3 linked regions of the Homo sapiens genome follow. The protein of the gene in region 2 interacts with the protein of the main gene of each other region in a biochemical or structural test. Each region holds a gene or a part of one and is shown on either strand. Other genes may lie near its edges. The genes, in order: NSF, GABBR2 and KCTD12.

What was found.
Region 1: the proteins of GABBR2 (region 2) and NSF form a complex in vitro, tested with the Homo sapiens proteins (one study listed by IntAct).
Region 3: the proteins of GABBR2 (region 2) and KCTD12 form a complex in vitro, tested with the Homo sapiens proteins (2 studies listed by BioGRID).

What each region holds. Positions count from the first base shown.
Region 1 is NC_000017.11:46,591,742-46,601,671, forward strand, and holds part of NSF (vesicle-fusing ATPase), read left to right. Parts: intron 1-9,930.
Region 2 is NC_000009.12:98,703,873-98,714,537, forward strand, and holds the start of GABBR2 (gamma-aminobutyric acid type B receptor subunit 2 precursor), read right to left. Parts: upstream 5,064-10,665; 5' UTR 4,866-5,063; coding exon 4,545-4,865; intron 1-4,544. UniProt on the Homo sapiens protein: Component of a heterodimeric G-protein coupled receptor for GABA, formed by GABBR1 and GABBR2. Within the heterodimeric GABA receptor, only GABBR1 seems to bind agonists, while GABBR2 mediates coupling to G proteins.
Region 3 is NC_000013.11:76,883,406-76,893,268, forward strand, and holds the start of KCTD12 (BTB/POZ domain-containing protein KCTD12), read right to left. Parts: upstream 3,001-9,863; 5' UTR 2,744-3,000; coding exon 1,766-2,743; 3' UTR 1-1,765. UniProt on the Homo sapiens protein: Auxiliary subunit of GABA-B receptors that determine the pharmacology and kinetics of the receptor response. Increases agonist potency and markedly alter the G-protein signaling of the receptors by accelerating onset and promoting desensitization.

The sequences.
Region 1 (9,930 bases), on a different chromosome or scaffold from region 2:
GGGATCTTAAAGGTCATTTAGTTTGGCTTCTTTCTCTTCCTTTTCCCCATGGCCTCTCCTTTTAAGGCTAGTCCTTCTGCCAGTACTTCAGACCCTATCTGTATATTCACCTGCTCCTTCTTAACATAATCAAGCTTCTCTATCTTAAACCCTTCCCCCACCCCCACAGCTGTCACCTTTTCCCGTCCCAGTTTACAGCAGGAAATTTGATAGAGTTGTCTATATTTATTGTCTTCCATTTGCTTACCACCTACTCACCCTTCAACCTACTGCAGTCTGATTTCTGCCCCATCATCCCACTGAAACCTGTCCCTCAACTTAATTGATACCTTTCAATCCTTATCTTATTTGATATCTCAGCAGCGTTTGACGTTGTTGACCATGGCTTCCTTGACGGAAAGCACTCTTCACATGTGTTCTGGAATGCCTCGCTCCTGGTTTGACTCAGACCTCTCTTTTGCGGCCTCACCCTCCTCTACTTTGTTATTCATTGCTGGTATTCCTCAAAGGCCGTCTTCTCACTCTCAATTTCCCGCTCAGGCAATTTCTTCTAAGCCCATAGCTACAACTGTCTATATGCCAGTGATTCTCAATATTTTACCCCCAGTCCAGACCTGCCCTTTAAGTTTCAGGTTAATATGTCCAACTGCTTATTTAAAATCAAGGTCCCGAAACGCAGCTTTTTCAACTCCGAACCCAGGATCTTAGCCCACCTAACTTGTGTAGATACTCCTCGACTTAACGATGGGGCTACCTTCCGATAAACCCATTGTAAGCTGAAAGTATCAGAAGTTGAAAATGCATTTAATACACCCGATCTACCGAATATCATAGCTTAGCCTAGCCTGCCTTCCTTACACATGCACAGAACACTTACATTAGCCTACAGTTGGGCAAAATCATCTAACATAAACCTATATTATAAAATGTTGAATACCTCATGTCATTTATTACTGTGCTGATAGTGAAAAACAGAATGGTTGTGTAGGTCTTCAAAGTACAGTTTCTGCTGAATGCCTATCACCTTTGCACTATTGTAAAGTTGAAAAATGTTAAGTCAAACCATTGTAAGTCAGGGACCATCTGTACCTATCCAGTGAGATAGGAATATCTCACTGAATGATACCATCATCCACCCAGTTATATAGGCTGGGAATCTGAGGGAGGGAGAGGGTGGGTAACCCTTTATGTCTCTCTTTTGCTGTACCCATGTCCTCTGCCCTATCCCCCGGTAAAATTTGTCAGAGTTCTGCTCCTGCCCCCCATAAAGGTATTTAATTAGGGCCAAAGACTCTGGTTTGGGGGAATGGTTGCTTTAGACTAGTTCCAAGTCACCCACTGGACTATCTGGATTGGTCACATGGGTTCTGTCATTTTAACCTAAAAATCTCCAGTCTGTCCACCTTTCCACATCTTCATTTTTACCTCCTTTTCCCAAACTACCATCATTTCTGGTCTGGACTACTGCAGGAAGCTTCCAAGTATTTTTTTGTTCGTTTGTTTGAGATGGAGTTTCGCTCTTGTTACCCAGGCTAGAGTGCAATGGCGTGATCCCTGCTCACTGCAACTTCCGCCTCCTGGGTTCAAGCCATTTTCCTGCCTCAGCCTCCTGAGTAACTGGGATTACAGGCGCCCACCACCACACCCGGCTAATTTTTGTATTTCTAGTAGAGACGGGGTTTTACCATGTTGGCCAGGCTGGTCTCGAACTCCTGACCTCAGGTCATCCACCTGCCTTGGCCTCCCAAAGTGCTGAGATTCGTGCCCGGCCTCCCAAGTAGTCTTCTTAGAGCATGTGGCCCACCTCCAATTCATTCTTGACCTTCATTGTTCCTTCCCGTGCCTATTACTACTTAAACCCCTCCTCAGCAGCATCCCATTACTTTTGGGAGAAAACCAAATCCTTAATGAGGCCTTCAGGACTCTTTGTGGTTCTGCTCCTGCTTCTTTCCACTCATTCTCTTACTCTGTGTGCTCAGGTTATATGGTAAACGAGCCTTTCAATTCCTTGAACCTGTAGTTTCTCTTACCACAAGGTCTTTGCGAGTGGTGTTTCCTTTCTTTGTAACGTTCTTCCCCCCAACCATTTACCTCCTACTCAGACATCACTTAGCTACTCAAGGGAGGCCTACTCTGACCCCACATTATAAGTCAGGATCCTTTGTTATATACTCTTGAAGAACTGTATTCCTCTCCTTAGAGATTTATCTTTTTGTTACTTTGAGTGTGTGTTATTATTTGCTTCTACCACTTCACCTCAGTGAAAAGCAGAGAACATACAAGTTATTTAGTCATTATCAACTGCGCTTTGTGTACCTTGTGGGACTTAGGTACTCAATACATTTTTGTTGAAAATGAATCAGTCTCTGAACACTCTGGTGATAGATGGTATATTACCCTAAAGCTTGCCTGTAATGTCATACAGCTATGTTAGGTCTTTGTTATCTGGAGTTCCATGTAACTTTTATACGTAGTTACTATTTCTGCTGTTTCAAGCCATACGGAACTAAACACAATTCTTTTTCCATGTAATAGCTACTCAAGCTACTCATTTACTTGAATACAGGTTACATATCTCCTCAGATTTTCGATTTTGCAAGTTAAACATCCCCCAATTCCTAGCATATTTCATATTCCAAACCCTTCATCATTTAGGCTACCTTCCTCTGGAAGTAACCTAATGTTACTGTTTTGTCAACCTTTCTTCTAAAATGTGCCCAGAGTGGAACACAGTGATCAGAGAAGAATGTACTTAAGCTATTATTGTCTTGAGATGGACACTACCATTATTCATACCAGATAAAATTGTATTAGCGTTTTTTCTATAGTAAATCACATTCTTGGCTCATACTGAGCTTGTAGTCAGTGAAAACTCATGTTCTTTTAAAATCAGCTCCCTAGCTCCATTCTAGGTTTAGAGCAGTTTTATTGAACCTAAATCAAGACCTTATCCTTTTACAATTCATTTTTTTAGGTCAGTGCATGTCTGCTGTTTGTTGAGGTAATCTGGATTCTTAGTTCTTTCATGTTAGGAAACATAATAGCTGTCTCTTCCAGTTTGGTTAGATCTGTAGGTTTAATCATGACTTCTGTTTCTACGTTTGAGTTATTGGTAAAGGATAGAATAAGACAGGGTCAGAAATAACCCTTGGACATGCTGCCAGTGACATGCCTCTAGACTGATACCCATTAATACACTTGGGCACTGTTGCTTAAATACAGATGTGTCTCATTTAATTCCAACAAAACAACCTGCAAAGTAGGTAGTATTATCTTTGTTTTTTTGCAGAGAGAAAGAGAGAGAGATTTAGTAACTTGAGAAGTTCACATAGCCAGCAAGAAGCAGGGTCAAGATTTGAACTCAGATCAGCCTGGTACTGTTACCTAGTTCACCAGCTTAGTTGCAAGAGTGTAGTAAAGACTAGGTTTACCTCACCTAGAACTTTTTGGACATAATAATGTTCAGAAACTATCTTCTACCTTTTGGAAAATCTGAAAAACTTTGGCCCATCTGATTGTCTATCATTTCTTCTGATAGCCTTTATTTTCTAGTAACTACTGAGTGATTTTTAGCAAAAATAGTTCACCTTGTTGCAATACTTTTATTTGTGCATATTTATGGAGTACATGAAAATTTTTTTACATGTGTATAATGTGTAGTGATCAAGTCAGGGTACATGAGTCCAATGTATTAAGTATAGTCATCTACTCAGCTATCAAACATTGAATTTATTCCTCCTATCACTGGATCTTTTTTTTTTTTTTTTGAGACGGAGTCTTGCTCCGTCACCCAGGCTGGAGTGCAGTGGTGTTATCTTGGCCTCACTGCAACCTCTGCCTCCCGGGTTCAAGCGATTCTCCCGCCTCAGCCTCCTGAGTAGCTAGGATTACAGGCATGTGCCACCACGCCCAGCTAATTTTTGTATTTTTAGTAGAGACAGGGTTTTACCACATTGGTCAGGATGGTCTTGGACTCCTGACCTGGTGATCCACCCGCCTTGGCCTCCCAAAGTGCTGAGATTACAAGTATGAGCCACCGCGACTGACCTCATTGGATCTTTTTACCTTTTAACCCACTTCTCTTCAGCCTTTCTCTCCCTTACTCCGCCTTCCCAGTCTCTGTTATCTATTTTTCCACTCCCTGCCTCCTTGTGTTCAAATTTTGTAGCTCCTACATATATGTGAAAGCATGCAATATTTGTCTTTTTGTGCCTGGCTTATTTCACTTAAGAGAATAACCTCCAGTTCCATCCACATTGCTGCAAATGATATGATTTCATTCTTTTTATGGCTGAATAGTATTCCATTGTGTACATGTATGACATCTTCTTTATCCATTCATCTGTAGATGGACACTTAGGTGGTTGATTCCATATTTTTGCTATTGTGATAGTACTGCAATAAACATGCAAGTGCAGCTATCCCTTTGATACATTGATTTCTTTTCCTTTGTGTAGATACCCAGTAGTGGGATTGCTGGATGGAAGGTAATTCTATTTTTAGCTTTGAGAAATCTCCATACAGTGTTCCTTAGTGGTTGTACTAGTTTACATTCCCACCGACAGTGTATGTGAGAGTTCCCTTTTCTCTGCATCCTTACTAACATCTGTTACTTTTTGTCTTTTTAATAATAGCCATTCTGACTGGGGTAAGATGATATCTCATTGTGGTTTTGATGTGCATTTCTCTGATAGTGGTGTGGAACATTTTTCCATGTCTTCTTTTGGCCATTGTATGTCTTCTTTTTTAATGGGATTATTTGTTATTTTCCTTTTGAGTTGTTCGAGTTCCTTGTATGTTCTGGATATCAGTCCTCTGCTTGATGAATACTTTGCAAATATTTTCTCCCATTCAACAGGTTGTCTCTTCATTCTGTTGATTATTCTTTTGCTGTGCAGAAGCTTTTTAGTTTGCTTAAGTCCCATTTGTTTAGTTTTCTTTATGTTACCTGGGCTTTTGATGTCTTAATCATAAATTCTTTGCTTACACCAATGTCCAGGAGTGTTTTCCCTAGACTTTCTTGTAGTATTTTTATAGTTTTGGGTCTTAAAATCTTCAATCCATTTTGAGTTGATTTTTGTATATGGTGAGAGATAGGGGTCTAGTTTCACACTTCTGCATGAAGTTATGCAATTTTCCCAGCATCATTTATTGAAGACAGTGTCCTTTCCTTAGTGTGAGTTCTTGTCAGTGTTGTTGAAGATCATTTGTCTATAATTATGTGGTTTTATTTCTGGATTCTCTATTCTGTTCCATTGGTCTACATGTCTATTTTTATACCAATACCATGCTGTTTTGGTTACTATAGCTTTATAATATATTTTGAAGTCAGATAATGTGATGTCTGCAGCTTTGTTCTTTTTGCCCAGGTTTGGTTTGGTTGTTTGGGCTTTTTTCTTTTTCCTTTTTTGGTCCCATATGAATCACATTGGTATTTTGATAGGGATTTCATTGAATCTGTAGATTGCTTTGGCAATATGGTCATTTTAGTGATATTAATTCTTTCCACAAGCATAGGATGTTTTTTGATTTATTTTCTTTCATTGGTGTTTTGTAGTTTTCTTTGTAGAGATCTTTCACCTCCTTAGTTAAATGTATTCCTAGGTTTTTGTTTGTTTTCGGTAGCTATTGTAAATGGGATTGCCTTCTTAATTTCTTTCTTGGCTAGATCCTTATTGATGTATAGAAATGCTACTGATTTAAAGGTTTTCTAAACCTACAGATATATAATCAGCAAAGAGACAATTTGACTTTCTCTTGTCCAGTTTGGATGCCTTTCATTTCTTTCTCTTGTCTGATTGTTCTGGCTAGGATTTCCAGTACTGTGGTGAATAGGAGTGGTGAAAATGGGCATCCCTGCCTCATTCCAGCTTTTAGAAGAAAGATCTCACCTCTCCTCATTCAGTATGATGTTAGCTCTGGGTTTGTTGTGTATAGACTTTATTATTTTGAGATATATTCCTTCTATGCCTAATTTGTTGAGAGTTTTTTTAATCATGAAGGGATGTTGAATTTTATCAAATGTTTTTGTTGTTGTTGCAATACTCTTTTTTTTTTTTTTTTTTTTTTTTTTTTGAGACAGAGTCTTGTTCTGTTGCCCAGGCTGTAGTGCAGTGGCGCGATCTTGGCTCACTGCAACCTCCACTCACTGGGTTCAAGCAATTCTCCTGCCTCAGCATCCCTAGTAGCTGGGATTACAGGCCTGTGCTACCACACCCAGCTAATTTTTCTATTTTTAGTAGAGACAGGGTTTTGCTATGTTGGCCAGGCTGGTCTCGAACTCCTGACCTCAAGTGATTTGCCTGCCTTGGCCTACCAAAGTGCTGGGATTACAGGCGTGAGGCACTGAGCCCGGCTGTTGCGATACTCTTAATGGGTTTTATATTTCCTTTTTGTGGGGGACAGTTTATTTTGCATTCTTACTACTTTTGATATTCTGACATCATCTTATAAGTGGGATTTATATTCACTATGTAATTGAAGTTTTTTCCAATGAAGCACCGTATATAGTTTATCTGGGAAATTGGCTGAAGAATAAAATGTGTGATGTTATTCAGTGTACAGTTTCTAGGTCATCAGAAGATACCACTACCTTCCCACTACTGGAAAAGAAAAAAGAAAAGTTTTCCACAGTGCCTGAACTGTTTTGTATGCTTATCTTTTAAAATTGCCAGAAATCTCACTTACTGGAGATTCAGCAGTCCCTTTCTGAAAATACACATACTTTAGTGCAAATAAAGCCAGTGGATCTCTTTCTTCATAAGTCCTTAAACCTAGTCGAGGTCATCTGTTTGGCAGAGATAGGAGTAAGATAATGTGAAATAGGAACCAACGAGAGAGAACTTGCTTAGGAGTTGAAAGGGGTATGGAAAGATGTTAGAGGTAAAATTTGTCGAATCTAGTGTTTTGACTAGGGCAGGCCAGAATATTCAGTATCAGTATCAATATCAGAAGCTTTTGTAGCCTTTGTTTAGAAACCTAGTCATTTATAACATTTTGTGGGTGAATGACATCATTACCAAACAAACTTTCAGATGAAACTTTGGAACTCAAGCTGTAAATTGTGGATAGCTCATGTGCAGTACTACAAATCAAAACAAATACTATAAAGTGTTTGGTAGTCCATTTCCTGAATGAAAGTTTGTCCAAAGTATATCAACTTTCTGCAGTCTTACATGCAGTAGTTATTAGTTTTGTGTATCGCTTTAGTGGATATTTTTAAAAGTATCTTCAAATGCAATGAATTTTAGGAAACAAAACAATTCTTTAAAGCATCATTAGATAGCTTCTTCTTTCTGAAACCCAGAGGAATTTATGTATAGGATGACTCTTTTTTTCAAGTAGTTAAGTTAAGGTGCAAAAGTATAAGGTAAAGTATATTATCTTACCATTGAAAATTTTGGCAGTGGCAGAAGAGCGAACCCTTACAAATACCTTCATTGGGCAATACACTAAGCACTTGCTGTAATGCTTTTTAAAACATCTATACTCTGGCTGTGGTATTTTAAGTGAAAATCTCTCAGTGAGATACTCTTTCGTATTTTAGTACTGATATCCTTAATATTGCTCTGAGAGCTACCTTATACTGACTTCAGTTTCCTAGTGATTTAAACTACTAATTTCCAACTTATTTTTTTTTATAGTGAAAACTAAATATTCCTTTTGTAGATGTAACCATTTCTGGAAGCCCTAAGTATTTTTGAATGAGTATAATTCATGCACACTTTAAGAGATTTCAAGCATGACAAGCACAGTGAATAACATATATCCATGTGATTACCACTGAGGTTTAAGAAATGTTAACATATGATATCTGCTTCAGATATTTATCTTTTTAAAAATAGAACATTACAGCTGGGCATGGTGGCTCACACTTGTAATCCCAGCACTTTGGGAGGCTGAGGCTGGTGGATCACCTGAGGTCGGGAGTTCGAGACCAGCCTGGCTGACATGGAGAAACCCCGTCTCTACTAAAAATACAAAATTAGCCGGGCATGGTGGCACATGCCTGTAATCCCAGCTACTCGAGAGGCTGAGGCAGGAGAATCGCTTGAACCTGGGAGGCAGAGGTTGCGGTGAGCGAGATCACAACTCCAGCCTGGGCCACAAGAGTGAAACTCAGTCTCAAAAATAATAATAATAAATAAAAAATAGAACATTACAGATCCAATTGACTCTTCTTTGTATTGCTCCTTTTTTTTTTTTTTTTTAGTTTTATTTAAAAATTTTTTTTAGAGGCTGAGTCTCACTTGGTGGCCTGGGCTGGAGTGCAGTGGCGCAGTCATAGCTCACTGCAGCTTCACACTCCTGAGCTCGAGCAATCTTCCTGCTTCAGCTTCCTGAGTAGCTTGGACTAGCAGAGGTGTGCCACCACATCTGGCTAATTAAAAAAAAGTTTTTAGAGATAGGATCTCTCTGTGTTGCTCAGGTTAGTCTCAACACCTGGCCTCAAGTGATCCTCCCACCTCAGCCTCCTGAGTAGCTGTGGTTGTAGGTGGCAGCCACCACACCTGGCAGTATCCCTTCTTGAGACCACTGACCTTTCCCAGAAGTAATCACTGTCCTGAAGTTGGTATAGATTCTTTCTGTCTACATCTATGCATGTTTATGCTCAAAAACAATATATTGCTTTGTGTGTCTTTAAAATGTATATAATGGTTTTATGCTATATCTTTCTTTCTGCAACCTGCATTTTTCACTTAAAATAATTTTGAAATTTAGTCCTGTGGATATATAGTGAGCCAATTAATTCTGCTTAGCTACTCTGTAGTCTGTTTTGTGAATATACCACAATCATCTACTTTCTTATTAGAGGACAATTTAGGCAGTTCCAATTTTATTTTTCCCGGAATGTACATTATTTTAGTCGAGTGCCATTGCCACATTAGCGATATTTTGGTTAGTGAGGGACTGCAGATAGGAAGGTGATCCCAAAAGATTATAATGCCATATATTTACTCTACCTTTCTATATTTACATATGTTTAGTTACACAATTACCCATTATGTTACAGTTGCTTACAGCATTTGGTGCTGTAACATGCTGTACAGGTTTGTAGCCTAGGAGCAATAGGCTATACCATATAGGTTTGTGTAAGTACGCTCTATGATATTCATATAACGATGAAATCACCTAGTGACACATTTCTCAGAATGTATCCCTATTGTTAAGCAACACATGAGTGTGTGTCTCCATGCATATATGTGTAAGAGTTAGCATGTGTGTCCAGAGGTAGAATTGCTGGGCGATAAGTCATACTCATCTTTACCTAGTTATGCCAGTTTATACTGTCACTAGCAGTATATGAGTACCTGTTATTTATATCCTCTCCAACACTTAATATTGCTGACATTTTAACTTTTACAATATAATAGGTGTAAAACTATTGTTTAAATTTGCATGTTGTCCTCATTACTAGTGAGATTAAGCATTTTTCATATTGGTCATTGGGATTTCCCCTTCTGTGAATTACTTTTGTATATTTGCTCATTTTTTCTGTTGGGCTGTGTATTTTTTTAGTGATTTGTATAATTTTTCGTTTTTTGGGGGGTAGGGTATGCTTTGGATTCTAATCCTTTGTTGTAAATAGCTTCTCTCAGACAGTGATGGTCTTTTCATGATGTTTATAGAGTGTTGGATTTAAATTTTATAGTTATAATTACCCTTTTTTTTTTTTTACCTTGGTGATTTGTGCTTTTATGTGTTTTTCAGGAAATCTTTCTCCACCCTGAAGTCATTTTCTTATAAAAGTTTTAAAATTTTGCCTTGCACATTTTGGTGATTGATCAGGAATTTATTTTTGTGTTTGGTGTGAATTATGAACTAATTTTATCTTTTCCATATGTATAACCAGTTGTCTCAATATCATTTATTGAGTCCATTTTTTTCCTTTACTGATTTGCAATGCTATCTCTGTATTATATCCAGTTC
Region 2 (10,665 bases):
TTAACTGTATTGAGATTTAATACAGTTAAATCTGTACTGAGATTTAATTAACTTATACACTTTAAAAGAGTGATTTATATATATATATATAAAGTGTATAATTCCATGGTTTTTAGTACATTCACAGAATTATGCAACCATCTCCACTATCATTCTCTACCTTGCATTAGAAATGATGAATACGTTCTTGCCCTGTTCTCTGTTCACCAGCTGCCTCTCTCAAACCCGGGGCTATGTTTTACACCTTTCTGCAGCATCAACAGCTCCAGTAGGTGCTCAGTAAACACCTGCTGAGCTGTACTCAGACCTTTTTAGGAAGCACAGCCTCAATTCAACAGTCCTTTAAATCCTTTTTAAAGCATAGTGAATAAGGGAAAAGATATTTGGCAAAGCCACTCAAGAAAAAAGACATGCTCAACAATCACTGGGATTTCTACATTGGATCTTGGCATCAGGGTGGTCTTTCTGACAGTTGTACCCCTAGACTGGGCTCCTTGGCTCCCTGAACTTTCTCTAAGTTTATTATTGAATGATTTAAGATAGTAACACATGAGAAAACATATAGGTCCAACAATAGGGGAATGATTAAATACGTATGGTTCACCCACAGGATAGAATAGTATACAGCCACCAAAAATCATCTTTACAAGGAGGATTTGAGGACATGGGGAAAAACCCATGATACAATGTTAACTGAAGGAAAAAAACATAAAAGAGCACATGGAGTATGATCTCAAGTACATAAAATAGTAAAAAATGACAACTGGAAGGGAATGATGCTAATTATTAGATGTTATTATTTTTGTGTAGATGGATTATGGGCAATTATTTTTCTTTATGCTTCTCTGTAATTTTCAGCTTTTCCACAATGAACATTAATCAAATTGAAAAAAAATATCTTTAACTCATTCCTTGGCTATTATTTTATTTTATTAGTGTGGCTAGAATAAGAAACAATCACATGGAGAACATTTCTGAAGACAGGAAGATCACTTGAGCCCAGGAGTTCAAGGCTGCAGTGAGCTATGATGTACCACTGCAGTCTGGCTTGAGCAAGAGAATGAGACCCCCAACTCTTTCAAAAAAAAAAAAAAAAGTCATTGTCTCTCAGATTTTTTAGATCAAACATTAAGTAATATGGTACATTTACCTTTTTACCTTGACTGCCAGGAAGCTCAGAGCTAAAATATAATACTCAATGCAATAAATTTTAGCCCAGGTTCTTGGTATAGTAACTTCTATGCTTCTACATAGTTTCTGATGCTTTCTTTTATCTGTATTTTCAGTTGTCTTGCTTGTTCAAATCCTCATTGGAATATATAAACGAGTATTTGCTGAAGCCATTTGGTGTTACACCAGAGAAGCAGAGGTTCTGATAGACAGGTATTCTGTTAGGCTGTTTCATTTTTACCAACACATGGCATTGAGTGAGGTTTTGAAAATCTACCACTATTCTACTTACAGAAGAGAGTCAATCTGGTTGTAGGAGGCTCCTTTATTGAGACAGATTGTCCCCAGGGACCAGATTAACCCATTCCTTGCTAAATCTCCATCTCTCTGCAGATCATATGGATAAAGGTCCATACTGGTGCCCATAGTCACTGGCCATTGAGGCCACTGATTGACAGCAAATGTCAGCAAATCCAGCCAAAATCTGTTCACCACATCCACCCTGTGTTAAAGTCTACAAACAATGTGACACAGCCTGCAAATAATTAGGCAGTGTCCACAAAGACAGCCAATCTGAATAAACTAGACCCTAAACACTCTAACACTAGCCACAAACATTCTTTAGATCGCTCTAGATTTTGCTGCAAATTACCTAGACTGATCCTTCCTTCACTCTGGCTCAGGGAGAAAGCACCTCTACTTTAAAGATAAGGCCACTTGTGAATTCACAGGAAATAAAAATGAAGGAAGGGAGCTGGGCACGGTGGCTCATGCCTGTAATCCCAGCACTTTGGGAGGCAGAGGTGGGCAGATCACCTGAGGTCGGGAGTTCAAGACCAGCCCGACCAACATGGAGAAACCCCATCTCTACTAAAAATACAAAATTAGCTGGGCATGGTGGCACATGCCTGTAATCCCAGCTACACGGGAGGCTGAGGCAGGAGAATCACTTGACCCTGGGAGGTGGAGGTTGCGGTGAGCCAAGATCACGCCAATGCACTCCAGCCTGGGCAACAAGAGCAAAACTCTATCTCAAAAAAACAAAAACAAAACAAAACAAAAAAAACAAAAAAAAAAAAAAAAAGAAGGAGGAGGAGGAGGGGAGGCAGCAGGACACATTTATTTAGTGCTTACAGCATGCCAGAGCACTGGCCGCTGAGCCTGCCAGCTCAGGGCATCTTCTACCCTGGCCTGTTATCTTCCTTAAGCTGTGTGTCACCTGCAGAGTACACATAATATTCCCACCTAGGCTTAGAGAGATTAAATACCCAGCTCAAGGTCATCCAGGGTGGAAAGTAACCAGTTTCTCACTAAAACCCAGGCCCCACCTACCCCAAAGCCCTGGCTCTGGGCCCCTTCAAAAGGCTAGAGACACTTCTCTGTTTGCACGAAGCTAAAATTATCTTCTGTCTTCCTTCCCACTGTTTTCTAAATATTCCCACGAATTGAAGAGTCTTCTGACTGTCTCATCCTCTTGACTTTGGGTCCTTTCACTCAGAAAGTCATCAAGACACACTCGAAAAATAAAATGTAAAGGCTTCAACCCACACCCTGAAACGAAGCACCCATCTCTTTGCTGCCACAAACAGGCCAGTATGAAATCTCTTTCAGGGAAGCTTTCTAAAGGGAAGAAACTGATGATGAAAACATTATGCAGCTGACAATACTTGGTGATGATGCAAGCAGGGCTGCCCTATCTAAAAATGTGTTTGTCCCCAAAAGACCGGCTTTGCAGTGACCCCTCCAGAAGAATATGTGCAGTAGCAACAGAGAAACTGTCAAGAAGATATGCCTCCGTGTAACTGCATTGCTGTCTCCATTTATGTGTGCCAGACAAGTACCCCCACAGAACTTGAGATGCTCAGGCAAAGACGAGGGCGATAGGAATGTCATTCGGAAATGATTTCACACCGGGTTAGCCCTGCACAGCCAGCCAGCTTGCATCCTCTGGGGCAGAGGACGCCTCTCCGCCTGCAGCAGCCTGCGCGTACCGCTGCCAACTGCCACCGGTTCCTTCACCTTTTATTTACAGCGCAGAGCAAGCTGGTTCACCGGTGAAGCGGGGGAGGCAGGGAATAAGATACAATCTAGATTCTGCTCTTTCTCTGGGGACATAAAGAGGGTCCGACCAAGGAGGAGGGGAAGCCCAGATTGCACCACCAGAGCAGTAGCGCGACCCTCCTCCCAAAAGGGTTCTGCACCTGGACTCCAGCAGAAGCGCCCGGAGAGTCCCAGGAAGCCAGGATCAAGCCCAGCGCCTCGGCCCCGTTCCGCGCGATGGAAGAGGCGCCAACCGAGCGTACTGCACAGGAAATCACTGCCCCCTTCAGGCCGCGTCTCAGACGCTGCGGTCGGAGCACAGGGGCTCGCTCGGTCCGGAAAAACTCGCAAACCCGACCTTGCGCGGCCAGCGATCGCTCCTCCAGACCCGCTCCGCGCGCTCCAGCCCCGGCCTGGCGGTGAAGGTCCGCTCTGGGGCTTCAGGCAGAACCCAAACCGAGGGCGTGGGGAGGGGTCTTGGGATGGAAAGCCCTTGGCTCTCTGGCTCCGCTCCGGACTGCTCTCCAAGTCTGTGCTCCGGCTGCTAGGTCGGATGCTTCAAGCCTGAGCCGTGAGAAACTGCCTGCAGCCGCCCGGCCAACAGCAGCGGCGCGGCCGGACACCACTGCACGTCCGGGACGAGAACTGCCAGGGCACTTTCTGAGCAACTAACCCGAGGCAGGGGTCTCCTGAAATCGCTCTGGCCACAGGCAGCGCCGGGCACGTCCAGGCAGAAGCGCTGCAGAGCCGGTGGCCCCACACTTGCCCGCGCGGAGCGGGCTCAGAGCTGCTGGCGCGCACCAGGCGCCCAGCCACGCTGCACGCTCAAGCCCCTTGGGTTCCGGAGCCTTCCGGACCTCAAAGCGCGGCTCGGCTTCCCTGGGGGCCTGTGAGCAGGCCCGCGGCCCCTCCGGCCCTGGGTGGCCCAGTTTGCAGTCAATGCGCCTGTTCCTCCCACTCGGTACCTCGCAGCCCCATGAGCGGGACCTGGACAGGGACAATCAATGTAGGCCTTTGGGGGTCCAGCCCCCACCTTCTCCACTCCTTTTTCTCTGGTCAAAAGAGACCCCAGTCTTCTATCCCACCCCCACCCCTCCCCACACACACATACACACATAAGACCAGAGGAGGGGGTGCTTGGCAAATGTTACCAGCTGTGCCAGCCAAGCCCAGCAGGACCGCGGGGGTGAACACTGGGCACCAGCCCTCTCTGCCCTCGGCAGGCGCGGGCCGGTCAATCGGGGATCTGACCAAAGGCCGGAGGTTGCCTGTGTCCAAACCACCCACCCCAATGCCCCCCGAAGCCCCGACGGCAGGGGCAGCCGGACACTCACCTCCGTGTCATAGAGCCGCAGGTCGAGGAAGTAGGGGCGCAGGAGTGACTCGTTGCGGATCTGCTCGATGGCCAGTTCCACGGCGGGGAGCACACCGCGCCCGATGCTGCCCTTGGCCACCTCCTTGGTGAGCGGCATGAGGCCCATGATGGAGAGCGGCGGGCTGCTGGGCGGCGGCCGGGGGGCGCCCCGCGCCCAGCCCCAGGCCCCGGGCGCCAGAGGCAGCAGCAGCGGCAGCAGCAGTAGCAGTAGCAGGCGCGCGGGCGGCGGTGGCGGCGGCGGCGGCGGCCCGGGCTGCCCGGAGCTCCGCGGGGAAGCCATGCCGCGCCGCGGGCTGCGGGCGCCGGCTCACTCGGCCCGCATGGCCTGGCCCGGCCCGCCGCCCCGCGCCAAGGTCTTCCCGCGGCGCCCGCGCAATGGCGCCGGCCCGGGCCCCGGCTCCGTCTCGGGCTAGGGTTCCGGCTCGGCTCAGAACGGCCGCGGCGGCGGCGGCGGCAGCGGCGGCGCCCGTGACGGATCAATCACGCCGGGAAGGGGTGGGAGCGAGCGGAGTGCGGGAGGCGGGGAGCAAGCGAGCAAACGCGGAGAGGGGGGCCGGCGTCTCCGCGCGCGCCTCTCTCCAGCGCGGCCGCCCCGCACCGGGCCGCCTCCGCCCGCCCCCGTGCGCGCTCTGAACCGCTCTCCCGCCGGGAGCTGCTAGGCGGCAGCCCCTGGAGCTCGGCCGGGGGAGGGCGGACGGCAGGAAACGCGGGAGGCGAAGGCGAGGCTGCTCAGGGGCGGCTCGGGCCGCCTCCAGGGACGGGGACGAGCCGTGCGCGCCGGGGGAGGGGGAGGCGCTGGCGCTGCGGCGGCCGCGGGGAGGGCCACCTTCCCAGCACACGCACACACGCGCCCCCGGCCCTCCGCTGCGCCAGCTGCCGCTGCCCGCCGACCGCTGACCTCCAGGCACCAGAGCGCCCGGGGACAGCGATCTGGGAACCGGGACCGCGCGCTGGCACACGCAGTGGCCGCCGCCGCTCCGCCGAGCGCTGCCTGTAGCACCTGCACGGTGGTTTGGAACCGCTTCTCGGAGGTCTGGCCGGGAAGGTCTGGGCAGGAGAATGTTCCACGAAGGCGTCCCAGAGGCATCTGCAGCCTACGCTCTCCCGTTCTTTTCTGGCGCCCACGAGCCCCTGACCGAGTCCCGGGGGTCGCTGAAGACGCCCACGGGTGCTCGAACGCCCGTTGGTGCCAGGCTGCCCGGCCTTTAGGGCCTTGGCTGAGGACACCCCTTTCCTCCCCACCAGACGGAGCGACCGCCCTTTGCCAACCCCAAGCAAAGCTGGGGTCCCAACCTTACGTGCGCTACCGCCCCCTCCAGGCATTTGACCTCCCCGCGTCCCCATTCTTGATGGGCCCCGCCCTAGAAGTCTCCCGGGGTGGGAGCACTATCCTCAGGCCAGGGCGGGGCCGCGCGCCCCTGGACTTGGCCCTCTCTCTGCCAGGTCGCACTGGCCAATCTTAGCCAAAGCAGTCCCGAGCCAGATGTACCCGAGTGAGCTGACCTAAGACCTTGGGTTCCTTGTGCCTCTGCATACTTCAAGAATAGGAAACGTGATCATTAATCTATAAAGTCCCAGGGGCTGATTAATGCGAGGAACACAGTAGGACATCAAATCACAAAACATACTTGAGCCTGAACCAGGGACTGTGGAAGATATCGACGACCTTGTAACAAGAATGGAAGTTTGACCTTCGCTGAGTACTTACTGTGTGCCTTATGATGTAATCCCCACAACTGCCCTGTAAGCATACTGTGTTACTCACCCTTACTTTACAGGCGAATACACTGGTGCTCAGAGAGGTTCTGTAGCTAGTGGAAGCACACAGAGCTACTGAAGGACCGGAACCCAGAGCCAGCAGGAACTCCGTGCACAGTGCAGTGGGAGCCAGGGATGTGGGACTGCAAGTTTCCTCTCCAGGAGGAGCACTGCCCTGACTCAGTTGCTCTGGACATCGATTCCCTCCGGCATATGGTGAGGGATTTGGACCGGATGATGATGATGATGGCCACACACCAGCTCTACTGGAGTGAGGCAAGGGCAGCTCTGAATCCAGGCTGAGTTGTTAGGAAGCACAAAGATGTGAGTGGAGGCTGAGCAGAACTACTAGAGAGTACCTTGGACAGCGCCAGGGAAACCAGGCCAAATTCTCTCTGCCCTAACTTCTCTTTCCAGGCTTCTATAGACTCCACCTCTCCCGGCTCCACTTGGCATTTCCTTTTCCCCAAGCTGGAGGGTTTGCATGAACAGAACTCACCTGAGCATCTCCTCCAGGAAGGGAGGAAGGAAGGGAGGGAGGGAAAGAAATGGTCCAAAGGACAGTGTAATCCCCAGATACTCGCTCAACTGCTGTCTCACTTGACATCACAAATATCCTCCAGTCATAGTCTTCTGGCACCTGCCATTCCTCAAACCCTTAGCTCAGGTTTCTGAATGAACATTTTCACTTGGTTTTTTTCTTTTTTCTAATTCTTTCCTTTAGTCATTTGTGTCCTCCTTGCAAGCTGTGCCAATATAGAGTGTCCACTGACACCTACATCTGGGAATAAGTTGAAAGCTGGGTAACTTTGCCTGACATTTACTAAGGGGTTGAAGGCCCTACCTGGCATCCTGCCCTACAGCCCCTCTGTCTTCTTTTATGGTGGGGTGACCTGGCCCCAAGACGCATGACCTGGGATCTGCCCTGACCCAGGGGGCACCAATCTCACTCTCCATCAGCATGGCTCCAGGCCAATCTCTGATCTCACAGCCCACTCCTAATGCCTGGGCATCCCTCTGGTTCCAAGATCTTACTCTGGCCTGGTATTACAGTTTGGGTAACTGCATCCCTGATGTGCTTCCTGAGTCTGAGTTCCTGCCTCAGTCACCAGCCTAGAATGCATGTTCCTCCAGAGCTGGGGTCCAGCGTCTTGCTTTATAATAATCATTCATTCCTTTGACCAGTGTTTTGAAGGGCATGCTACCTGCTAGGCACTGTCCTAGGAGCTGATGATATAGGAAGGAAAAAACCAGAACAAAATCCCTGCCCTTGTAGAATTGACATTCTAGTGGAGAAAGAGAAACAATAAATAGGAAGAAGAAGATATGTTAGTATGCCCATTTATGAAAAGTGCTATGGTGAACAAAAAAGCAGGAAAGAGGATTGAGACTGGCAGAGTGGGGCTGCAATTTGAAATAGGGAGGTCAGGGAAAGACACACTAAGGTGACTCCTCAGCAAAGACATAAAGAAGGTAAGTAAGAGAGACAGGCGAATAGTGTTCCATGCAGAGGAACAGCAAGGGCAGAGGCTCCGAGACAGGAGTGTGCCTGGCATGTTCAAGGAACAATGTGGAAGCCAATGTGGTAGAGCAGAGTGGGCAAAGGGAAAGCAATCAGATCCAAGGTCAAAGGCAGGTAGGACTGTATGGGGCCTCAGCACTGGGAGGGCACATGAAACAGCAACCGTGGGAGGCTACTGGGTGGAGCAGTGACATGATCTGATGTATTTTAAGAGGATCACTCTGGCTGTAGAGTGAAGAACCGTTAGCAGGGGAAAAGAGCGTGAGCAGGAATACCTGTTAGGAGTCTCTACTACAATAAGCACATTTGGTGGCCAGGCCAGGGTATAAGCAGAAGAGAGGATGAGAATTGGCTAATCATTGTGCTTCTTATTAATTGGAATAAAATGCATTGGCCAAGTCCCAGAATGTGGAAAACACTTGATTCCCTTGAACTCATCTACCTTTTAAGAGATGTAATAGAGACTTAGAAAGCAACGTGCTCAGGTTGCACCTCCAGGAAGTAATGAAACATCCGTGTTAGCCCAGGTCTGTATGGCTTAAATTATTATCTTGTTTGCATAATCCTGTTTCCTTAGCAATCTTTTCTCACAAACCCTCTGCCTACACACAGAAGCCAGTCTCTAAACCCCAGCTCAGAGGTTGAGAGATGGTGCCCGCTTCCTTTCTGGGGATTTTGGGGCTCCATGGTCCAGCTGGCTCCCTGTCAACATGACACTCCATCCCTTTGAACAGGATCCTGATGCTGGGAAGCTAACCAGGCCTTTCTCTGCTGTCTGCTCTCCTTCCTTATTGGGCTGACACCCTGTGCCACCCAGGGCTGCTCAGATCTGCCCTCCAGAGCTGCCTCCTTCCAGGAACTGGGTCCAGTTTTTAACACCCTTTTCCCCATTTGATTGTTATCCATGCCTGCCTCTACTCTAACTCCTAACAGCAGCAAGGTCTTCTCTCACTTTCTTCTTTAAAACAAAACAAACTATATATATATAGTTGATATAAGGTTGGTGCAAAAGTAATTGCAGTTTTTGCCATTGAAAGTAATGGTAAAAACTGCAATTACTTTTGTACCAAACTAATATATAGGATTGAGACTGGAAGGGTGGAGCTGCAATTGTGTGTGTGTGTGTGAGAGAGAGAGTGTGTGTGTGTGTGTATGGTTTACATACACACACATAGGCACACACATGCCATCTTTGCAAACATCTCCCATGTTATTTCTCATTCATGTTTATATGGAAATGTTTCTTTCAACCAAGTAGTTGGCAGCCTATTTTTTTTCTTGAAGTGCATTATTTATTTTCATTTCCTTGCTTTTTTAAAAATGGTAAGTTATGAATGATGGCTCTAAAAAAGACTAACTGAATGAATCTAAGTTGCATATCCCTTTTCACAAGGCATGTTTTTTAAACCATAAAATTAGGTTTCAGGTATCATATGTGGTCTGGTGACACAGCTTGAGTAATAACAATAGCTACCATTTATTAAACACCTACCTACTCTGTGCCAGACACCTTGGTATGCATCATCTTAATCTTCACATCTGCCTGAAAAATTGGTGTTAGGATCCCAGTTTTGCAAATTAAGAGATTAAGGTACAGCTTGATGAAATGGTGTGCCTAATGATACTTGGCAGAGGCAGCAAGGGGGTCCAAACCCAGTACTGTCTGACCAGTCCTGTCAAACCCAGTCCTGCCTGACCCCAAATTCCTGCATTTGTCTCCGCTCTACTTGCCTCTCCTTGAAGATGCCTTTATAGAACTGAATAGGACAGCCTTAAAGAGACAAAGAACACTGCTGAGGGTCCACACCAGAAAGAAGTGAAATGAGCTAACCAGGGAACTCCACTGAGTTAAAGAGAATCTGGGTCCTCTTTTGGGTTATCAGGGAGGAGAGTGTCTGGCCTGGAGAGTCTATGACTAAATCCTTCAAGAGTCAACAGCGGCTGGGCACGGTGGCTCACACCTGTAATCCCAGCACTTTAGGAGGCAGAGGCGGGCGGATCACGAGGTCAGGAATTCAAGATCAGCCTGACCAACATGGTGAAACCCTGTCGCTACTAAAAAAAAAAAAATTAGCCGGGCATGGTGGCATGGGCCTGTAATCCCAGCTACTCAGGAGGCTGAGGCAGGACAATTGCTTGAACCCAGGAGGCGGAGGTTGCAGTGACCCGAGATCGGGCCACTGCACTCCAGCCTGGGTGACAGAGCGAGACTCCATCTCAAAGAAAAAAAAAAAGAGTCAACGGCAAGGCTAGGGCAGGCCAGCAGAGCCCAGAGCCTCCTCCTTTACCCATACTCTTCATGTGGTTTGAGAACTGTGGAAGATTGATTCAGGTCAGTGGGACAGGTCCTGAATGAACACAGAAAGGACATTTAGCTTGTAATTGGGTGGTCTCCAGAACAACACAGACTGGCAACAGGGATTAAATCCTCTCTCATTTAGAGGTTTCAAAAACAATTAGATTATTAACAAAGGGGACCCAGGATGGACAAGAGGGAGAGTTTTAGAACAGAACCTTAGACGAAGAACAGGCTTAGGAAGCCTCTTTTCCTACCCCTCCAAACATATGAGTCCCTCTTTACCCCTTAGGGACAGTGGTGAGTTTTGGAGTCAGGCAGCCCTGGCCTCAAATTCTGGCTTGCTAAGTATTAGTGGTGCAACTTTGAGTAAGTTACTTAACTTCCCGAGCTTCATTTTCTCCATCTGTAAACTGGGAACAATAAAGGTTCCTCTTTCATAGGGTTATTGTGAGGATTAGATAATGACAATAGCTAACACATAGTGAGCATTCACATGTGCCA
Region 3 (9,863 bases), on a different chromosome or scaffold from region 2:
AATATCCAAAGGACACCTCACAGCATGGAGCATGACGAGGTTTATTTCCCTTCACTTATGGTTTACATAGGATATGCATTGGGAATTTATTCCATGTAAGAGTAAAGGCATAAGGCAACCAGGTCTCCTTCTGTTTCTGTTGCATTTACCTATTATTGGACCATTTTATTGCTCAGCTCACTTTTAAGTACTTATTTGCCTTCATTTAAAAATATTCCATTTTACAGCTATCTACAGATAGGCAGCCCTTGGTGCTGAGTTCTCTGCAGCTCGTCATTTGAAAGGATTCCACTTAACTTCAAACAAACTGCATGAAAGTGGCATTTTCAGGTTTTCAGGTTTGCCCAGAAGTCAACGTTTGCTGGGCTTGGAGAAAATAAGGATTTTTAATAAGTGATCTTAGGTCTAAGTAACCAAAATGAAACTTCTTTTGCGCAATAGATTCCAAAATCAGGATTTATAATCAACAAGAAAATAAAAGTTCAAAAACTAAAACCCTACTGGGTAACTCTTTGGTTAGATTATATATAAGCATTAACAACTCTAAGTTTAGGACTCAAAACAGTAAGTTAAGTAAACTGCCAGGTAAGAGTAGGTCTGTTATTAATCTTTATAAAATACTTGGCATGTTTGCATTTACTATATGATATTTTTTAAATGTGCATATACTCAAACAGATGGTACAAACTTCCAACTTTCAAATCATAAATGACTATGTCTGCTTCTCCCTTCCCACCCTTCCTACCCTTTCCTCCCTCCCCACCCCACCCCGCCCACCAAGTCTTACAGCTAAAGGAAGGTCCTACTGACATTCATTGAAAGAATACAGGCTTTCCTAATACCCACGACGTGCACTATGACCCAGCTCCCTACAGTCACTGCCAGGTGACCTCCTACGGCGCTTGGAGACCTGAGCAGCCTTGCACTCTTAGGCGGCAGCGTCCTTTCTCCCTCTTGCCAGTAACTGCTGCCATGTCAACCAGTGGAATCAAGGGCTTCTGGCGAGCAGCAGCTGAAAAGGGCGCCTCTGCAGGCAGGCGGATCACTTTCTATAAGTTTAAGCTACAGGCTGAGACCTTTTATTCTGTACGAGAAAGGATCCTTTACTGTCCCACGCACTAGATTCTTCTACTTTACGTGTAACTTTTCAAAACTTTATTAGTTTAGTTACTGAACTGCCTCCATGGGGTCCTAATTCCAGGCTCAGAATCTTCCATCCAGCCTTCTAAAACTCTACCTTCAAAAGAGGTCAAAAAGACTGTGTAATGACCTTGTAAAACACTAACCCCAGACAGTGGAACCAATCCTGATCTCTTAAACCCCCAGTGAGTCATAAGAGCTTGAGAAGATTTCAAGGAAATCTTCCGCACATTGGACACGGTCCAATCAGGTTCTGAACAATTCAATCATCCCCCGGTCTGTGGCCACACTCCCCCAATAGATCCAAACTGAAGTACCATCTGGGGGAGGGGTGGTTTGAGGCAGGGAGTAGAGAAAGCATGGAGTGGTAGGTGGGGGTGGGGTGGGGGTTCCTCTGGGTTCTCTCGGTTCAGGAGGTCCAAAGAAGACGAAGCAGCCCAGAGGATTTGCGGCTGCAGGTTCTGTAGTGGAGGGAAGGTGGGCGGACAGGTCTCACCCAGCTACTACTGGAGGGGGAGAATGGGAGGGCAGCAGCCAGGGGACAAAGGTGGGACAAGAGGCTCTGTAATCATCTCTCGGGCAGGAGAAGGACTGGGCGCTGGAGTGGCGAGGGGGTCTGGGGAGCTCACTCCCTGCAGAAGACGTACTCGGTGTAGCTGGTCCAGATCTTGTCCTCGCTCTGGTCGGTGCTGCTGGCAAAGGCGCAGGTGCCCGTGGAGCTGCACGCCACCATGTGGAAGCCCGACTCGGACAGCTTGTCGAAGGCCTGCTCCAGGAAGTTGAACTTGAGGTAATAGCGCGAGGTGTAGCGCTCCGGGGGACGGTCGGGGTCCCGGCTTTCGTTCAGGGTGTCCCCAAACACCTCCTTGGCCAGCGACGTCTTTCCGCAAACGGTGATGCGCGCCACTCGCCGGAACTTGGCGTCCGCCTGCGCGTCCCGCCCGATGGTGTAGGAGCCGCGGTAGCCGATGGTGATGTAGCCCGAGCGCCGGCTGCCGTCCAGCGACTGGGACGGCGTGAGCAGCGGGCCCGCCGCGCCCCCGGACGGACTGCGGCTAGCCAGCTCCAGCGTGGGCGACGGCGCCCCGGCAGAGGCGCCCTCCTGCTGTTCGGGCTCCGAGTAGCCAAGCGGCAGCAGCTCGTCACCCAGCGAGCCCTCCTTGTGCACCCCGCGCCGCGAGGGCGGCGGCCCCGGGCCGGGCTGCTGGGGCGCCCCGAGGCGGCGCACGAGCTCTGGCAGCTCGAAGTACTCGGCCTCGCGCTGCAGCCGGCTGCGCTCGGGGAAGTAGTCGGGCAGCACGAGCTGCAAGTCCCGCAGGTAATCCAGGATGTAGCGGAAGAGGAAGCCGTCCCGGTCCAGAAAGAAGCGGCCTTTGCTGTCCCGGGCCAGCTCCTGCGGCTGCTGCTGCGTGAACATGCGCCAGAGCAGCGAGTCGGGCACCGACACCACCGTGCAGCGCCGGGTCACGTACACCTGGCCCCCCACGTTCAGCTCCACGATGTCGGGGAAGAGCGGTGGCTCCGCGGAGGACGACGAGGAGCCACTGCCGCCCCCGCCGCCGCCCCCGTTGGGTAATCCACGTGTGCTGTCCGCCAGAGCCATGACAGAGAGGTGGCCGGGCCGGGACAGTGGCAGGAAGCCGCGCTGCACTCAGGAGCTGCAACCGCCTTCCCCGGAGCCCCGGAACCCGGACGCTCGCTCAGCCCTGCGCCCCGCCGCCGCCGCCGCCGCCACCGCCGCCACCGCCACCGCCGCCACCTCCTAGAGCCGCGCGGAGCCGAGCGGTGCGAGCGCGCCGCTGTGCGCCCCCTTGAGTTCCAGTGCGCTCCGCCCGCCTTGCCCGCGCGCTCCAGGCGAGTGCCGGGTCGCGGCCCGCGCGCTGCTTAAGTAGAGCCGCCTGCTCTGGTGCCGTGGCGCGCAGGAGGCGTGGGCGGCGGCGGAGCCTCGCTTACCGGGCGAGGGGAGGTGGGGAGCGGGGACTCGATTTGCATCTTAAACGCGGACGCCACGCGGGGCTGCTGGCTCCACCCCGGCTCGCGAGCGCTGGGGGCGCCCGGACTCCCACCCGCTCCCCACCCACCAGCCCCGCCCCGTGGTCCCGCCCAACTTTCTCCCTCTTCCGAAGAGGACCCGCCCGAGACTTGGCGGCTTCGGAAGACAGCTCCTTGGAGGGACAGTCACCGCGCCCCCTCCCCTCTCGCCCCAGCCCGCACCCAAGGACTCTGGAAGGAGGACGTGAACTTTCGGAAGCCTGTCGCCCCGGGAGTGGAAATGCGTGGCCGCCTCCGGCCCTCCCGCCTGCGGAACTGGGCGCTTCCAGCAGTGCAGCTGCGGCCTGCCATCGTTGGTTGTCGTGTCACTGAAAGTAGAGAGACGCGAAAAACCTGGAGAGACGAAAGAGCCGCCCCAGTCCGAGCGCAGCCAGATTTTGTTCAAGTTGCCTTGCAGCCAGCCTGGAAAATAAATAAATAAACCTAGAAACAAAAAGCAAACCTCAGTGTCCCGCAGTAGGATGCTTTACGATAGTTTATTTTCTGGCTGCAGAGACAAAATGAGATGAAGCTTCAAATCTGCTCTTAATTGCAATTCCCTCTTCCCGCAGGGCCTTCGAGGCACTTCACTTCGAAGTGAAGGGGTAAGACTCCGGAACGTTCGGTCTCCGGGTCCCATTCAGCCTTCGTTGAATCGCGCCCTTAGACTCACAACAGTTGCAGATCTAACGTAATTTTTAAAGCCACCTTTGGCGCCTGCATGTTTATCCTTCCAAAAGTCCAGGCGCCCCTTCTCTCCCGCATGCCTCGGTCACTCTTCGGCCCTGTCCAAGTTCCCGTCAGTCTCAGAAAGGGATATTTATATATCTGAAGGCCCTTGTCTGGATCCCATCTCTCAACTCCTGCTGCCTACACGTTTGCTTTTCCCCCTCGGACTGCAGCCCACAGAACCGCCCCCTCCCCCTGGAAGCTTTCCCTGGCTTCCCAGGTGGGTGGGGCCTCTGGATGGCTCCCTACACACTGTCTGCGCTGCTCCCAGCACGTTCTGAAATGTCATATTTATGAGTGATTATCTGATCACTGATTTGGGTATGAAAATAAGTAAGAGCTCCTGAATGCTGCAAAAAGAGAAGAGTGCAGAGGAGGGTGTCAAGAAATGATTGGGTCACTGAATGTTTCTTGTGTACCTGCTATTATTTGCAGGGCACCAGGGAGTGAGGAATGCAAAGGCGAATAATCTCCAAAGCGCTTTCAGTGTAGCCCAATAAGCAAAGGGTCAGGGGTCTGCGCAGTTATCACATCAGTTTGAAGTATAGACCACACATCAGGATAAATCAGGCAAGATCTTTGTTCTTGATAAAATTTATCCTTCTGTGTAACTACCCAGTGAGCTTCACAGTCTCCTCACAGATAAATGTCATTTTTATTTTGAAATGTTTATATCTGCTCAACAATTACCGCGCTCATGTCAGTGTGCTGAAATGAGATCAACCCCCAAACCAGTTATCTTAATTGCAAGTACAGATTTTGATACTGAATGTATTTCAACATTCTTTTTTTGTTGTTGTTCTGTTCTTTGGGATAAATAATAGATAACACAAAACTTCCAAGTCCCAGTGCAGGATTTCGAGGTGGTTGTGCTACTAGGCGTTATATTAGTGTCAGAGACCTGACAAAACCAGCCTCTTTTCTACAAATCCAAGAAAAGCCTTCTTTGTATCAGTTCTGCACATATTTTTGTATAATTACCATTGCTCATTGCATCAGCAAATCCTGCCAGCTCTGTGTTAAAAATCTTTCTAGACTATTAACGTATTTCACCATCTCCCTATCATCACCCTGGACCAAGCCACCATCATCTCTTGCCTGGATTATTGCACTGGTCTCCTAACTGCTTCTACTTCTGCTCCTACAGTCTTGTATCACCAGAACAAAAACAGGGACCCTGCTTATAATCCAAGGCTGGTATGTCACTCTGCTCAGAGCCTGCCAGTGGCTTCCTATCTCAGAAAGAGCAAAATCCAAAGTCCTCTCAGTGGCTTACAAGACTCTACATGTTTGGAGTTATCCCACCAGCACCTCTCTGACACATCTCCTGCCCTGCCCCCAGGAGCTGGCTGGCTTTAGCCACATAGCCCCTTTCTTGTTTTCTCAGGGCCTTTGCACATCCTTGTAAAAGTCTCATTTCTCCTCCCTCCCGTGTTCCTCACCTTGTTCAGGTCCCTCCCTTCTCACCTTCTTCAGGTCTGCCCAGCAAGACCTTTCCTTGATTCCACTTCTTAATGCAGCACAGCCTCACTGCAGCTTCCTCTTCCTTGCCTTATTTGTTGACTCTTTTCCTACATCAGAATATAAACTCCAAGACTTCAGCAGTTTTTGTCTGCTTGGTTCACTGCCACACCCCCACTGCCTAGAACAGAGCTGGTATATTACAGGCATTTGATAAATATCTGTTGCTCACGCAAGCATTCAACCACTATTTATTCAGGGCCTACTACTATATTCCAGGCTGCATGTTAAAAAATAATCACTGCCCACTAGGAGCTTATAGTCTTGCGAGGGAGACAAATAAATATAGTATAAAGATAAGTAAGCCTATTTCAGGTGGTGATAAATGCCACAAAGAAAATAAAATTATAAGATGTGATAGAGGGACTGAGTGTGGAATACTACTTTATACAGAGTGCCTGGGGAAGGCATCTCTGTGAATGTGACATTTGAGCTGAATAATAAGAAAGAGACAGCCATGGGAAGTTTTGGAGGAAGAGCATTCCAGGCACAGGGTCAAACAAGTTAAAGGGGCCTGAGTTATGAGTGAGCTCACATTGAAAGTTTATGTATTGTGTCATCTACTTGTATCCTGTGAATCTCCAAAGTACCCTTGAGATGATCAGTACAGAGTCAAATGTGAGTGATACCGTGTGCTTATTCACTACCTGCAGCCTACTATCATCATTCTCTACATCTTGACATAAGGTAGTCATCAACCACCAGCTAGTCTACTGCAGAAAAGCCATTGGTATTTCCTTATGGAAGCCAGGTAATGCATGAGAGATATAATAATGAATGAAACAGGTGATTTGAAACACAAGGAATGTTTTTCTAGTTAATTTTGTGTGTTCTGTTTCTTGCCTATTGGTTGGTATCACAGAATTCAAAAGGAAATACTACTGGGGAACTCTGATGCTGGGACTTGAGGGCCTGAGTGTTTATAAGAAGAGAGTCATAACTCTTTAGCATCTCCAGTATGTTAAATATGCTTGATTGCAAGGGATTGGGGAGGATTTGGAAACCCACTAGCCCTGTGTTTAGTCTCAAACCAGTTTCTAATGATGGTCATTGCTAATTGATGGTCATTGCTCCTTTTCAAGTAACTCTTTGTATTTTCCTGAATAAGATACAGTGTGCCTGCAAGTAACCTGTCCTTTGATCCTAAAGTGGAGGATACTGGAAACATCTCTGGACCTACATTCTCATCTCATTTGCATCTTCTCCCCCACCTACTGCCTTCTCTTCAAACCAGCTTCCCCTCCCACTCCCCACAGTAATCCTTCTTATCCAAAGTTTCCATTACCATGGTTTCAGTTACCCATGGTCAGCTGTGGTTTGAAAATATTACATGGAAATTCCAGAAATATAACTAATTCATAAATTCAAAATTGCACACCATTCAGAGTAGTGTGATGAAATCTCCCACTGTCCTGCTTCGTCTTGCCCTGGACATGAATATCCACACCTCTACACTCCCAACCCATGAGTCACTTAGTAGCCATCTCAGCTGTCAGATCAACTGTCTTAGTATCACCCTATCACAGTGCTTGTGTTCAAGTAACACTCAGTTTACTTAATAAATGGCCACAAATTACAAGAGTAGTGATGCTGGCAATTCAGATATGCCAAAGAGAAGCCATAAAATGCTGCCTTTAAGTGAAAAGGTGAAAGTTCTCAATTTAATAAGAAAAAAAAAGTTACATCCCAAGGTTGCTAAGATCTATGATAAGAATGTAGACATTGTGAAATTTCTGTGAAATTATGAAGGAAAAATTTGTGCTAGTTTTGCTGTCACACCTCCAAACACAAAACGTATGGCACAGAGTGCATGATAAGTGTGTAGTGAAAATGGAAAAGGCATTAAACTTGTGGATTGAAGACATGAAGAGAAACATGTTCCAATGGACAGCAATCAGGTTCAGTACTACCTACGGTTTCAGTCACCCACTGAGGGTCTTGGAATGTATACCCTTTGTATGAAAGGAGACTACTGTATTCTGCATACCAAAGATTTAAGGAAAGGAATGAGGAACATGAAGAGAAATATAAAGTTAAAGGGGAGGAAGAACTGGTGAAATGAAGTGAGTGCCTTTGAGAATTGAATGAATTTAATATATGTGAAAATGATCTGTACATTGTAAAACACCATTCAAGTGTCAGAATCATTATTTTCCACCACTTATCATGGTGCTTGACAAGTCTTCCCAATAAATACTGAATGAACAAATGAATGGCAGAAACATTAAAATGAACACTATGGGGAAAGGGGAAGAGAGGCAGAATCAGAAATTATCCTGAATAAATATTTATTCCATTTGTCATCCTCCTAATATGTGTGAATCTTTTCTCCATGCAGGCTTTAGAAGTCATTGACTTTTTGCATTTAGAAGGAGAGATTAATTGAATAACATTAAGTGAATCCGGAGGCAAAATGATCTTAATAAAGATTTGGTAAAAGATGTGACAATATTTAACCTGAAGAAAAGAGAACAAAATGTTATATAGGGTACACTGCCAAAATACTAGGTCTAAATTCCAGTTACTCAGGAGGCTGAGGCAGGAGAATTGCTTGAACCTGAGAGGCAGAGGTTGCAGTGAGCCAAGGTCGCACCACTGCACTCCAGCCTAGGCAACAGAGCGAGACCCCATCTCAAAAAACAAAACAAACAAAAAAAAAAAACAGGTCTAGACAGTAAAGAATATCCCAACATTGTATGATTATCTCTAGAGTATGATTTTTATGATTTATAGAACCAAACAAAGAAACAAAAGTTAACAATGTTGATATTTCTATACCCTTAAGATGGTGTTTGGAGCTTATCCAGGAAACAAATAATATAACAAGCATGTATAGAGTACTTACTATGAGCCAGCCCTATTTATAGAACTATACATGTATGAACTCATTTAATCCTAACAATAACTTTATGAGGTTGGTGCTATTACCCAAGTTTTAGATGAGAAACTGAGGCACAGTGAACTAATTTTCCCAAGATCATACAGCAAATAGGTGCTGGAGCTGGGATTTGAACCCAGGCAGTGTAGCCTTAGAATCTGTGCTTTTAAACACTGCATTTTAAATCCCCTTTCCTCTAGGAGTGCTTTACATGTATTAAGAAGTAAGTTATATTATTTTCCCCCTTTACAGATGAGAAACCCAAGGCAAAGAGAAGTAAGGTAACTTGACCAAGATAACACAGCTCTTTATCTCTGCTGGGGGCAGAAATGCTACTCTAAAGTCTACGTGCTTGTGTTCCGCAGTACTGGTAACCAGAAACTCAAAGTAGCCACCCTGAAAGAACTAGGGTTAAGAAAGAGTCAAGTCCTTGGCCCTTATTTCTTCTTTCTGCCTTCTTTTTTCCTTCCAACCTATTTTAGGTTTATGGGTACCTGTGCAGGTTTGTTACACAGGTAAATTGCACGTCGCAGGGGTTTGGTGTACAGATTATTTCATCACCAAAGTAATAAGCATAGTACCTGATAGGTAGTTTTTGGATTCTCACCTTCCATCCAACCTCTACCCTCAAGTAGGCTCCAATGTCTATTGTTCCCTTCCTTGTATCCATGTGTACTTTTACCCAAATAAGAATCTCTATTTGAGCCCCTGGATAGAACTGACACACTATTGTCCTAATCTTTCCCTAATTCAGTCCTGTACACAAAATAAACAAGATTTTATTTCTGGCTCTCTCAAATATCATTACGGTTTGCAAAGCACCAAGTTCCTAGCATGTTCATTTGGCTTTATTCTGATCTCATTAACTCTTGACAAGGATAAAGTGAATCCATGGAAACTGCTGAGATCTAGGTTCCAGTTTCCCAAAGCAAGCAGTATCCACTGGTCTTCTGGGGCTCATAAAATTGAACAAGTGCATTCTACTTGTGGCTTTGCATATCAAACTGAACACAAAAATAGCTGGCCCTCATCACTTGAGTGATTCTGGAACTTCTGACTAAGACTAATTATTAACATCACTGATGTTTCATAAGAATTTGAAAGTCTTGGTTTCCAATCATGATATTAAATTTAGAGAGGAACTATATATAAGTTATCACATTCTAATCACATTCTAGTGTTTTTCTGTTTCGAGTGTTTTCATATTGTCAGGTTGACTTAATTATCACAATTTTGTGAGGTGTTAACCAACCTGTGTTCCAAATGAAGAAAGAAACTCAAAAAGGTTAGGTGACTCACACCTCCTCTCAGGTGGCTGGGATGCAGTGCTGGGATGCACGTGGATGCTTCCTGATTTCATATCCCATGCTCTTTGAACTCTTCAGCAGCCATATCAGCTCCATTTAACACCCAAATGAAGGTTGTCATTCAAAATAATCACCTTGAAGACTATATACTCCTTTGAGGGATGCTGGAATCACTCACCATTTTTGGTACATTTGTTTGGAAATTTTCTTCAAAGCCAATTTACACAAGAATATCACCCTATTATTTTATACTTATG